2 separate regions of the Homo sapiens genome follow, and region 1 is linked to region 2. Evidence: fine-mapped QTL for protein levels in blood plasma. Region 2 holds a variant in brackets. A gene starts in the other region. All regions are shown on their forward strands.

The links. PIP is the posterior inclusion probability: the model's chance that the variant is causal. The UK Biobank Pharma Proteomics Project read protein levels with antibody pairs (Olink). The fine-mapping took linkage between variants from a reference panel, not from the people measured, so its PIPs are less certain.
Region 1: it holds the start of LRRC25, and the variant in region 2 is fine-mapped to the plasma level of the LRRC25 protein (UK Biobank, PIP above 0.99).

The regions. Positions count from the first base shown.
Region 1 is chr19:18,395,631-18,401,003 of GRCh38, forward strand. It overlaps LRRC25 (leucine rich repeat containing 25), which reads right to left and starts at 1,992. Exons shown (of 2, transcript NM_145256.3): 1 at 555-1,992. The coding sequence starts at 1,333.
Region 2 is chr6:10,525,811-10,531,172 of GRCh38, forward strand. It overlaps GCNT2 (glucosaminyl (N-acetyl) transferase 2 (I blood group)), which reads left to right. Exons shown (of 5, transcript NM_145649.5): 2 at 1,664-1,850; 3 at 2,821-4,026. The coding sequence starts at 3,102. Among named protein-coding and RNA genes, the nearest start is that of GCNT2, 7.1 kb to the left of the region's middle. The variant C/G (reference allele first, on the strand shown) is at 3,406.

The DNA.
Region 1 (5,373 bases), not on the chromosome of region 2:
GGGGAAGTTTGTCCCATATATGGGAACTCACTTAATTCTTACCCCAACACACTATGATGGGGGCTGTAATTCTCCCTCATTTTACTTTATTTTATTGATTTTATTTTTGAGATGGAGTCTCACTCTGTCACCCAGGCTGGAGTGCAATGGCATGAACTTGGCTCACTGCAACCTCTGACTCCCAGGTTCAAGAGATTCTCTTGCCTCAGCCTCCTCAGTAGCTGGAACCACAGGCGCCCGCCACCACACCTGGCTAATTTTTGTATTTTTAGTACAGACTGGGTTTCACCGTGTTGGCCAGGCTGGTCTCAAACTCCTGACTTCAAGTGATCCGCCTGCCTTGGCCTCCCAAAGTGCTAGGATTACAGGTGTGAGCCACCATGTCCAGTCCTCTCCCCATTTTATAGGTGAGGAGACTGAGGCTCAGAGAAGTAAAGCTACTCACCTAAGATCCCACAGCCTTCAAGCGGCAGAGCTGGGATTTGAACCTCGGCCATCTGGGTGTGGAGCCTTATTATTCACCACTTTGGCAGGTGTCTCAGTGGCTTACTTACCCTTGTTCATCCCACTGGTGCTCGGCTGCTGGCTGGCCCACAAACATGTTCTCATAGTCGGGAGTGGAGGGGCAGGATGGCACGGCCACTTGGGGCTTGGGGGCGCTCCGGCTGCCGTACCGTGGCTGCAAGCCTAAACCGGGCTTGGGCCCATCCTGAGCAGCCCAGGGTTTGTTCAGCTCCCGGCTTCTGGCCACTCGGCATCGCCAGAGTCTCCAGGCCAGCACAGGGCCAGCGATGGCAAGTCCAAGAAGCAGGCACCCGCTGACCACCACTGCCCCGATAGTTGCAGAGGCCAGGCCAGGGGCGCAGCTGACCTCCAGGAAGGCAGAGAGGTTGTGCTGGGAGCTGGTTGTGTCCCAGCAGAGCAGAGGCTTCTGGCCAGAGCAGTTGTCTCGGCGGATGTCGTGCCAGGACTCCAGGGCACAGTTGCAGTCGGCCTGCAGGTCAAGGTCACAGCGGGCGGCCAGCGCCCCATCCACACGAGACAAGGGGTTGCGTAGCACGTTCAGGACCTCAAGCTTCTGCAGGTGGGCAAAGAAGGTCACTGGAAGCTCTCGCAGGCCGTTCCCAGACAGGTCAAGGAGAATCACGTTGCTGGCCCGCAGAGACTGGTTGTGAGGCAGGCTCAGGCTGAGGCCACTGAAATTCAGGCACGTGGCACTGAACTCCGCGTTCCAGTCCACATCCGCGGAGGACACGGTGCACGACGGTTCTAGGCTGTCTGACTCCCGCAGCAGCAGCGGCAACAGCAGCGTCCATGCCAGGGTGCCCCCCATTCAAGCAACCTACGTAGAGACACCGGAATCCTAGCCCTGACCTCAGCCCTGTGGTCGCCCTCGCCTCCACCGCCAGTGTTTATTATTATAGCTCAGACCAGCTCAAGCCGCTTCTGAAATGGTAAAACGCAGCCCCAGTCTGGTCGCCTCCTTTGGCTGGTGGGCTGCCTCAGTCTCCCCTTCTGGGGAATGGGTAGATAACCCCAGTGCTTAGCGGGCTTGGAAGGCGAGGAGGAGATCCGGGCCAGTTAACCCCTTCTTCTATGTCCTGAACATTTGGGGCGCCCTCGTTGGCCAGGACGGGACCCTATGCAAATAAGCGGTTGCCTTGGAAACGGCCCCGCCCCCTGATCACGCTCCCGGTATCTCCCAGAACGGCGGGTCGCTGGGAAGTCCTGGGATAGGGTGGAGTGGGGGCTGCTGAAAGGGTCCTCCCAGGTCTGGTTTGCAGTCCCTGCACAGGTGCAAGTTCTAGAGCCTCAGTCCTACCTTTTGGGTCCCACTGCCACGCTTTTGCCTCTGCGATGCTGGAAAAGCGACGGCGCCCAGAGGCTGCGTCCTGGCCCACCTGGACACGGGGGCCGCAGCGGCCACGGCCAGCACCGTCCGCAGCGCTGCTGGGGTCGCTGGCGTTCCTCTGGCTCTGCACCCAGCGACTCAGGGGGAAGAGGAACTGGTGTCTGGGTGGAGTGCAGAGGGGAAGAATGAAGACAGAGATCCGCCCCCTTGCAGGGCCTCAAGGTTCTCACCAGAGGTGGATGGAGGGCAAGAGGGAGGGGTGGACCAGAGTCCCGCTTCCCTCTTGCTAGAACCCAGTGACTTCATGTCCTCTATTAGCACCCCAACCGACTGCCACCTCATCAACTCGCTTCTTGATCTCAGCTTGGCTGGTTCCCAGCTCATGCAGTCATTTATTCATTCAACAAGCATCACCCACGCTGGGCCCCCAAGAGGCCTCAGCCCTGACCAGGTCCTCAAGGAGCTATCTTAAGAGAGGACAGAGCTGGACATAGACACTCCTAGTCCCATGCAGTTAAGGAAGGTCCAGAGGGAAAGACAGGGTCCTGGAAGGCTTCCTGGAGGAGGAGGCATTACAGTTGGGGCTTCAACGCATGAGTAGGAGTTCACTAAGATTCCCCAAACCTATCATTGGCTCTCCAAGCTCCTCCAAGCCTCTCCCACTGAGTTCTTGCACAGTGGCACCTCTATGCTGGAGGGGACAGTGAGGAGGGCTCCCAGCAGCTTGGGAAAATGTAGCTGGCTGGGATAGCATGGTTAGGAGTGGAGAGGATAGAAGGAATTGGTGGTGGGGGAAGAGGTCCATGTGGAGCCAAGGCAGGTGCGTGGGCAGAGGGGCACTGGCTCAAGAAGTCCCTCTGGAGTGAGCCTGGTGTCTGGGGTGGGCAACTTGGGGAGGAGGCTGAGGTCCCAGAAGCAGATGGGGGCCTGAGGCAGACTGGAGGGGTAGTAGTGACAAAAATGATACTGAGGAGGGGTGGGCTGGGAGAAGGCCTCACCTGAACCTGGTGTCAGGTGGACCAGGTACAACCTATGCCAGCCCGACTCACTGTGCCACCTTAACTGCGTGTGACACCATGTCCACAGCTGTCAAATGCACAGAGGCTTCTCCGGGATCTGGGAGGCTGGGAGTCCACTCCCCCACGTTTTCCCCTCTTTTCGGCCTCTGTCCTTCACATCGCCAAACTCCAAGAAATGGTCAAAGGCTTTGAACGGAGACCTTGAAGAAAAAGCGGGAAACTGCTTTTCAACATGTCCAGAGATGCTCATTCTTGCCAGGTGCAGTGGCTTACACCTGTAATCCCAACACTTTGGGAGGCTGAAGTGAGCAGATCGCTTGAGCCCAGGAGTTCGAGACCAGCCTGGCCATCATGGTGAAACCCCGTCTCTACTTTAAAAAATACAAAAATTAGCCAGGTGTGGTGGTATGTGCCTGTAGTCCCAGCTACTCAGGAGGCTGAGGCAGGAGAATTGTTTGAACCCAGGAGGTGGAGGCTGCAGTGAGCCAAGATCACTCCACTGCATTCCAGCCTGGGCAACAGAGTGAGACCTGTCTCAAAAAAAAAAAAAAGTTCACACTTAATAAGAAAACTGCAAATCACAAACTGTTTGTCTTCACCAATCAAATTGGCAAAAATCCAACAATGCAATGACATTCTGTGCCAGCCAGGCTGTGGGGTGCGTCCATGGTGTAGCACTGGTGGAGGGCACCCTGGCACAGGCCACCGGAATGATAAACTCATGTGCCTGCTGACACAGCAAGTCCACTTCTGGGAATCCCTGCCTGAATATTTGCATGTTTACAGTGTGAACTGACTAACGAATAAAAAAATGTGGCTCAGCCTGGACGTGGTGGCTCATGCCTGTAATCCCAGCACTTTGGGGGACCAAGGTGGGCGGATCACGAGGTCAGGAGTACCAGACCAGCCTGGCCAACATGGTGAAACCCCGTCTCCACTAAAAATACAAAAATTAGCTGGGCATGGTGGCACGTGCCTGTAATCCCAGCTACTAGGGAGGCTGAGGCAGGAGAATCGCTTGAACCCAGGAGGCAGAGGTTGCAGTGAGCTGAGATCATGCCACTGCACTCCAGTTTGGGCGTTAGAGCGAGACTCCATCTCAATAATAATAATAATAATAATAATAATAATAATTTAAAAATTAGCTGGGCATGGTGGCTTCAGCCTGTAGTCCCAGCTACTTCAGAGGCTGAGGTGGGAGGATCCCTTGAGCCCAGAAGGTTGTGACTGCAGTGAGCCGTGATTGTGCCACTCCACTCCAGCCTATGCAGCAGAGCAAGACCCTATCTCTAAAAAATAATTTAAAATAAATGGCTGGGCCGGCCGCGGTGGCTCATGCCTGTAATCCCAGCACTTTGGGAGGCTGAGGTGGGCGGATCACCTGAGGTCCAGAGTTTGAGACTAGCCTGACCAACGTGGAGAAACTCCATCTCTACTAAATACACAAAATTAGCCGGGTGTGGTGGCGCATGCCTGTAATCCCAGCTACTTGGGAGGCTGAGGCAGGAGAATCACTTGAGCCTGGGAGGTAGAGTTTGCAGTTGAGCCGAGATCACGGCACTGCACTCCAGCCTGGGCAACAAGAGCAAAACTCCATCTCAAAATAATAATAATAAATAAATAAATTGGCTAAAATGTTCAATTTTATGTTGTGTGTATGTTGCAGGTTTGTTTTTTTGAGAAGGCAAAGTCAGGCGTGGTGGCTCACACCTGTAATCCCAGCACTTTGGGAGGCTGAGGTGGGCGGATCACAAGGTCAGGAGACTGAGACAATCCTGGCCAACGCTGTGAAACCCTGTCTCTACCAAAAATACAAAAAATTAGCTGGGCGTGGTGGCATGTACCTGTAATCCCAGCTACTCGGGAGGCTGAGGCAGGAAAATCACTTGAACCAGGGAGTTGGAGGTTGCAGTAAGCCTAGATCGCGCCACAGCACTCCAGCCTGGTGACAGAGCGAGACTTCATATAAAAAAAAAAAAGAGAGAGAGAGAGAAGGCAAAAAGATGCTCCAGGCTCAAAGTGATTCATTGCAGCATTGTTTGTTACATGAAAAAAAATAAAATGGGCCGGGCACAGTGAGTCATGCCTGTAATCCCAGCACTTTGGGAGGTCAAGATAGGAGGATCGCTTGAGCCCAGGAGTTCAAGACTAGCCTGGGCAATATGGTGAAACCCCATGTCTACCAAAAAAAAAAATTTTTATATATATATATAGATAGATATACACACACACAAAAATTAGCTGGGAGTGGTGGCACATCCTTACAGTTCCAGCTACTCGGGAACCTAAGGCAGGAGGATCGCTTGAGTCTGGAAGGCAGAGGTTGAAGTGAGCTGAAATCGTGCCACTGCACTCCAGCCTGGGGTGACAGAGTGCAGAGTGATCCTCTGCCTCAAGAAGAAGGAAAAAAAAAAAAAGGAAATAACTTAAAGGATTGGTTACATTAGTAACAGTTCAGTTCATCCATCCTAGCATGCCACAAAGTTCTGAAAATGAAATTAT
Region 2 (5,362 bases):
CTGCAACTAAATCCAGTGAGTTGTAAATTCGAAGAGCAGGCAAATAATTCAAGATGCTTCTATGTCTGCAATGTCTGGAGGGATAGAACTAGGCCAAGAATGAGGTAAGAGTCAAACAAACACCTGATGTAATTGTCTGGATAAATTAGGAGAAAATATGGTAAAAATTACTTGACTAGTTTAGATAAGCATAATTCAGCATTGACATTTTCATTTAATCATTCCTATAGTATTTCATTTGATATGGACAGGGTCTAAAGAGACGTTAAAAGTCAACTAAAAATTAGAGAAATTTTAGTCATTTCAGAAAAGATTGATTTTGTATGCGTTCTGTATTGAAGAAGTGATTTGTTCAAAAGAATTCTGGATAGACGCATGAAAGATAGTTAAGAAAATAGATATTTGGGTTGATTAAATTCTATTTTGGGGGCCCTATAGGCACAACTGGGTGTACCTGAGTCACGCTGTAGAATCTGATTCCAGAAGCAACTGAGAACTGACTCACTGTGTTCTAGAGAATTTTCCCTGTGTCCTTTCTTGTCATCATTTCCTGTGTTCCTGACACCGTGAAATGGGGTTGGCTGCCGTCTCAATGTGTTCGCTTTTAGCTGGGTTAGCGGAAAAATCAACAGGAATAACTCCAGGTTCTAAAGTAGTGATTGTGAAGATAATACCCAAGGCACACCAAGAAGCACTATGGAAAATGTTATTGTATAATAGTAAGTGCAGAATGCAGGATTTAAGCTTGCATCTTCCTGCGTTCTTTTTTTTTTATTAGAGATGGGGCCTGGCTGTGTTGCCTAGGCAGGTCTCAAACTCCTGGCCTCGAGCTCCTCCCGCCTTGGCCTCCCAAAAGTGCTGAGATTACAGGCGTGAGCCACTGCACCCAGCCTCCCCTGTGTTCTTGATAAAATAAGAATGTGTATTTCCTATAGGCAAGAGGTAAATGAAAGTACAGGACGTGGAAACATTGTGTTTAGAAACTATCTACGATATTATGTCGTCTTTGTGATTAAGAAAATGAGCCAGGTGCAGTGGCTCACAGCTGTCATCCTAAAGCTTTGGGACCCTGAGGTAGGAGGATAGCTTGAGGAGTTCAAGACCAGCCTGGGCAACACAGTAAGACCCCCATCTCTACAAAAGAGTAAATTAATTAATTAATTACATTTAATAAAAGTTAGAAGATACATTGGAAAAATTAGGTTTATTGACTGTACCACATTCACAGATACAAATATATATCTCCTACAAATCAGTATTACCTGGAATTTCTCACTAATGTGATCAGGGAAGCAGGGAAATGAAAACTTGAGCATTCAATCAATAAATAGTTGATTGTGCGGTGGCTCGCGCCTGTAATCCCAGCACTTTGGGAGGCCGAGGCGGGTGGATCACCTGAGGTCAGGCGTTTGAAACCAGCCTGCTCAAAAATGGTGAAACCCCGTCTCTACTAAAAATACAAAAATTAGCCAGGCATGGTGGCAGGTGTCTGTAATTCCAGCTACTTGGGAGGCTGAGGCAGGAGAATCGCTTGAACCTGGGAGGCAGAGATTTCAGTGAGCCGAGATCGTGCCATTGCACTCCAGCCTGGGCAACGAGAGCGAAACTCCGTTTCAATAAATAAATAAAATAAAATAAAAAGTTGCTTGTCTACTACATACAGACAATGCTAGGAGCCAGAAACATGAGGAATACATGAGCTCGGCGCCAATGGAACATGCTTTCACACCGGGTGCAGCTAACCACCACATCATACAAAACTCGTCGCTGACGTTTTAGATGTATAATCTGATTGGCATGGACTCACAGAGGAGGGAGTAAGGGAAGAGTAAGAAGATTTCAAAGGAGAGGTAATTGTGTCATTTATTAGAAGTATGAGTGTGGGGTAAGAGATACGTGTGTATGCATGCGTGTGTGTGAACGGACTTCTTGTTTAGTACCATTTTGCTGCTGCTTTACCACCCCAATCTGTTCCTGGACACGGCGATGGACTCTGTATATGTTATCTCATTTTATTCTCACAATTGACCTCTGGTGGTAAAATTATTCTCATTTTTTACAGATTAAAAAAAAAGCCTCCTTTAAAGCATTTGTAAATCTGGACATAAGAGCCTCTCTCCTAAAATTCAAGACTGAGATGCTCTTCTCTCCTTCCTCTAAGCATCAGGGTTCTCTGTCTGCATCCTATGCGGACCAGGGCAAAATAAACTTGAAATTCACTATGTTAGCCTGTATGCAATTTTGGGTGATGATGGGCTATTGGTCGTTTTGTTGTTTTAAAAAAAGAAGTTAGCCTTTATTCATCCGAGTGCCACAGTCACTTTGTGCAGTAAGTTAGGTGGTGAGGTAAGCTTGCTAATTAATGGGCATTTTAAAGGACTTTACCCAGCAGCAGACAAAATTAAGCCCTGGAAAGAATTTAGCCCAGTAGCCAGTCATATGCCATGTCGTATAGCATACCCAGCCAATGGGGAGAGCGAGGTGTGGCTGTGGAAAAAGACAGGGTTAAGCAATTTTTTTAAAGCACTACATATTTATTGATAGAATATCTCTCCAGGCAGTATTCACATGCTTTAAACTGAAGCTCGTAGCTTGGCAGTGCAGTTTAAGCAAATAAACTCAGGCTGTTGAACACAATGATTAACAGGAAGCAGGGGAGGGGACATAGTTACTAGACTCTGGCCGGGACAAGAGGCTGAGGTTAAGGTCTTAGAGCCGATGACTTGCAGAATGGTCACCTCACCCACTTGTAATTTCATGGTGGGAACAGGTGGACCCCCTGGAATCAGAACCTCTCTGAGGACATCTGTTTTTGTGTAGACACAGGTTGCAGGTTAGCAGGAGAACAGGCAAGCCAAATGCAAAGGAGCCACTTCAGAAATGTGTCACAGAAAAGTGAAAATGCAACCTAGTGGTAAGTGAAGAGGGGAAGAAGAAAGAAAAAGGACCAGAACCGTGAACTGAAGGGACAGGGAACAGCCAGACGAGAGCTTCAGCCATCACGAGGATGATTTCGGAACCTGGAGAAAATGTAAGTTAAATATATCTACACTCTGATCCTATCTCAAGAGAGAGATATTTTACTCATTTCCTGGTTGTGAATGATGGGCTCTTGGAAGCACTGTCTTTTTAGCGCGTCTCTTATCTCTGCCCTGATTTTTGTATTTGTTTACAATACTGAGTTATGGGAGAATAAACGTTTTCTGAGGGCAGCTCTGTCCAATGCTTCACTGTTAGCAGAAGCCTGTCATCAGATTTTTGAGGGGAAAGTTTTTTACCCAACAGAAAATGCATTGAAAACTACCCTTGATGAAGCTACCTGCTATGAGTACATGGTTCGAAGCCACTATGTAACAGAAACACTCTCTGAAGAAGAGGCTGGGTTCCCTTTAGCTTACACAGTGA[C/G]CATCCACAAAGACTTCGGCACTTTTGAGAGGCTCTTCAGGGCGATTTATATGCCCCAAAATGTCTACTGTGTGCACCTGGATCAGAAGGCGACGGATGCCTTTAAAGGTGCAGTGAAACAGTTACTCAGCTGCTTCCCAAATGCTTTTCTGGCTTCCAAGAAGGAGTCGGTTGTCTATGGGGGGATCTCCAGGCTCCAGGCTGACCTGAACTGCCTGGAAGACCTTGTGGCCTCTGAAGTTCCCTGGAAGTATGTCATCAACACCTGCGGGCAAGACTTTCCCCTGAAAACCAACAGGGAAATAGTTCAGTATCTGAAGGGATTTAAAGGGAAAAATATCACCCCCGGAGTGCTGCCTCCTGACCACGCTGTTGGACGGACTAAATACGTCCACCAAGAACTGTTAAACCACAAAAATTCCTACGTGATTAAAACAACAAAATTAAAAACTCCTCCTCCTCATGACATGGTGATTTACTTTGGCACGGCCTACGTGGCTCTCACAAGGGACTTTGCTAACTTCGTCCTCCAAGACCAGCTCGCACTTGACTTACTCTCCTGGTCCAAGGACACCTACAGCCCCGACGAACATTTCTGGGTGACACTCAACAGGATTCCCGGTATGTACGTCTCTTAACTTTTATTTTTACGAATAAACACTGCATGGTCAATACTAAATAAGTTGCTTTGAAAAGAGTGGAAAAAATGGGACAAACTTCTTTACGGTTTTAAATGTCAAATTAAAAAAAAAATTTCATCTGTAAAATGGTAAAATGGAGATGTGTTATATCACCCACTCTTGTGAACCGCTCTGTTCACAGGACAAAAGACCGAAGGAACACTGGCCATATAAATAAAAACGTGACCGAGCACAGTGGCTCAAGCCTGTAATCACAGCACTTTGGGAGGCGGAGGCAGGTGGATCACTTGAGGTCAGGAGTTTGAGAGCAGCCTGACCAACATGGTGAAAACCTGTATCTACTAAAAATACTAAAAAAATTAGCCAGGCGTGGTGGTGCATGCCTGCAATCCCAGCTACTGGAGAGGCTGAGGCAGGAGAATCGCTTGAACCCAAGGGGCGGAGGTTGCAATGAGCCAAGATTGTGCCACTGCACTCCAGCCTGGGTGACAGATCGAGACTCCATCTCTAAATAAATAAATAAATAAAATGTAAACCTTATTCTCCTTTAAGCGCAACGCATTTAAAATCAGGAATATGTATTATAAATAAAATTTGAATGACAATTTGAAGATTTCATAATATTTTTGTCTCTGTTGAAGCTCCCATCCTTTTGAAATGGGAGCAAGATACAACTTTCAAATTTTTTATTTGCAAGCTCTTTTCTGGTCTTGAATCAAAAATCTAAAGCATGGCCAGGCATGGTGGCTCACGCCTGTAATCCCAGCGCTTTGGAAGGCTGAGGCAGGAGGATCTCTTGAAGCCAGGAGTTTGAGACCAGCCTGGGCAACATAGTGAGACACTGTCTCTATTTTTTTTCAAGAAGTTAAAACAAACAAACAAACAAAAAAACCTTATTGCACCTTAAAGATTTCTAGGCTGAGCGCAGTGGCTCACACCTGTAATCCCAGCACTTTGGGAGGCTGAAGTGGGCGGATCACAAGGTCAGGAGTTCGAGACCAGCCTGGCCAACATGGTGAAACCCCGTCTCTACTAAAAATACCAAAAATTAGCCAGGCGTGGTGGCGCATGCCTGTAATCCCAGCTTCTCAGAAGGCTGAGGCAGTAGAATCGCTTGAACCCAGGAGGCGGAGGTTGCAGTGAGCCAAGATCACGTCATCGCACTCCAGCGGAGACTCTGTCTCAAAAAAAAAAAAAAAAAGATTTCTAGACTAGTACCTCCATTTTATAGATGAAGAAACTTCAATGTGATTACATGATGTGCTCAAATCCCACAGCTAGTAAGCAAATGCACCAATTATAAACCAGGTCTCCTA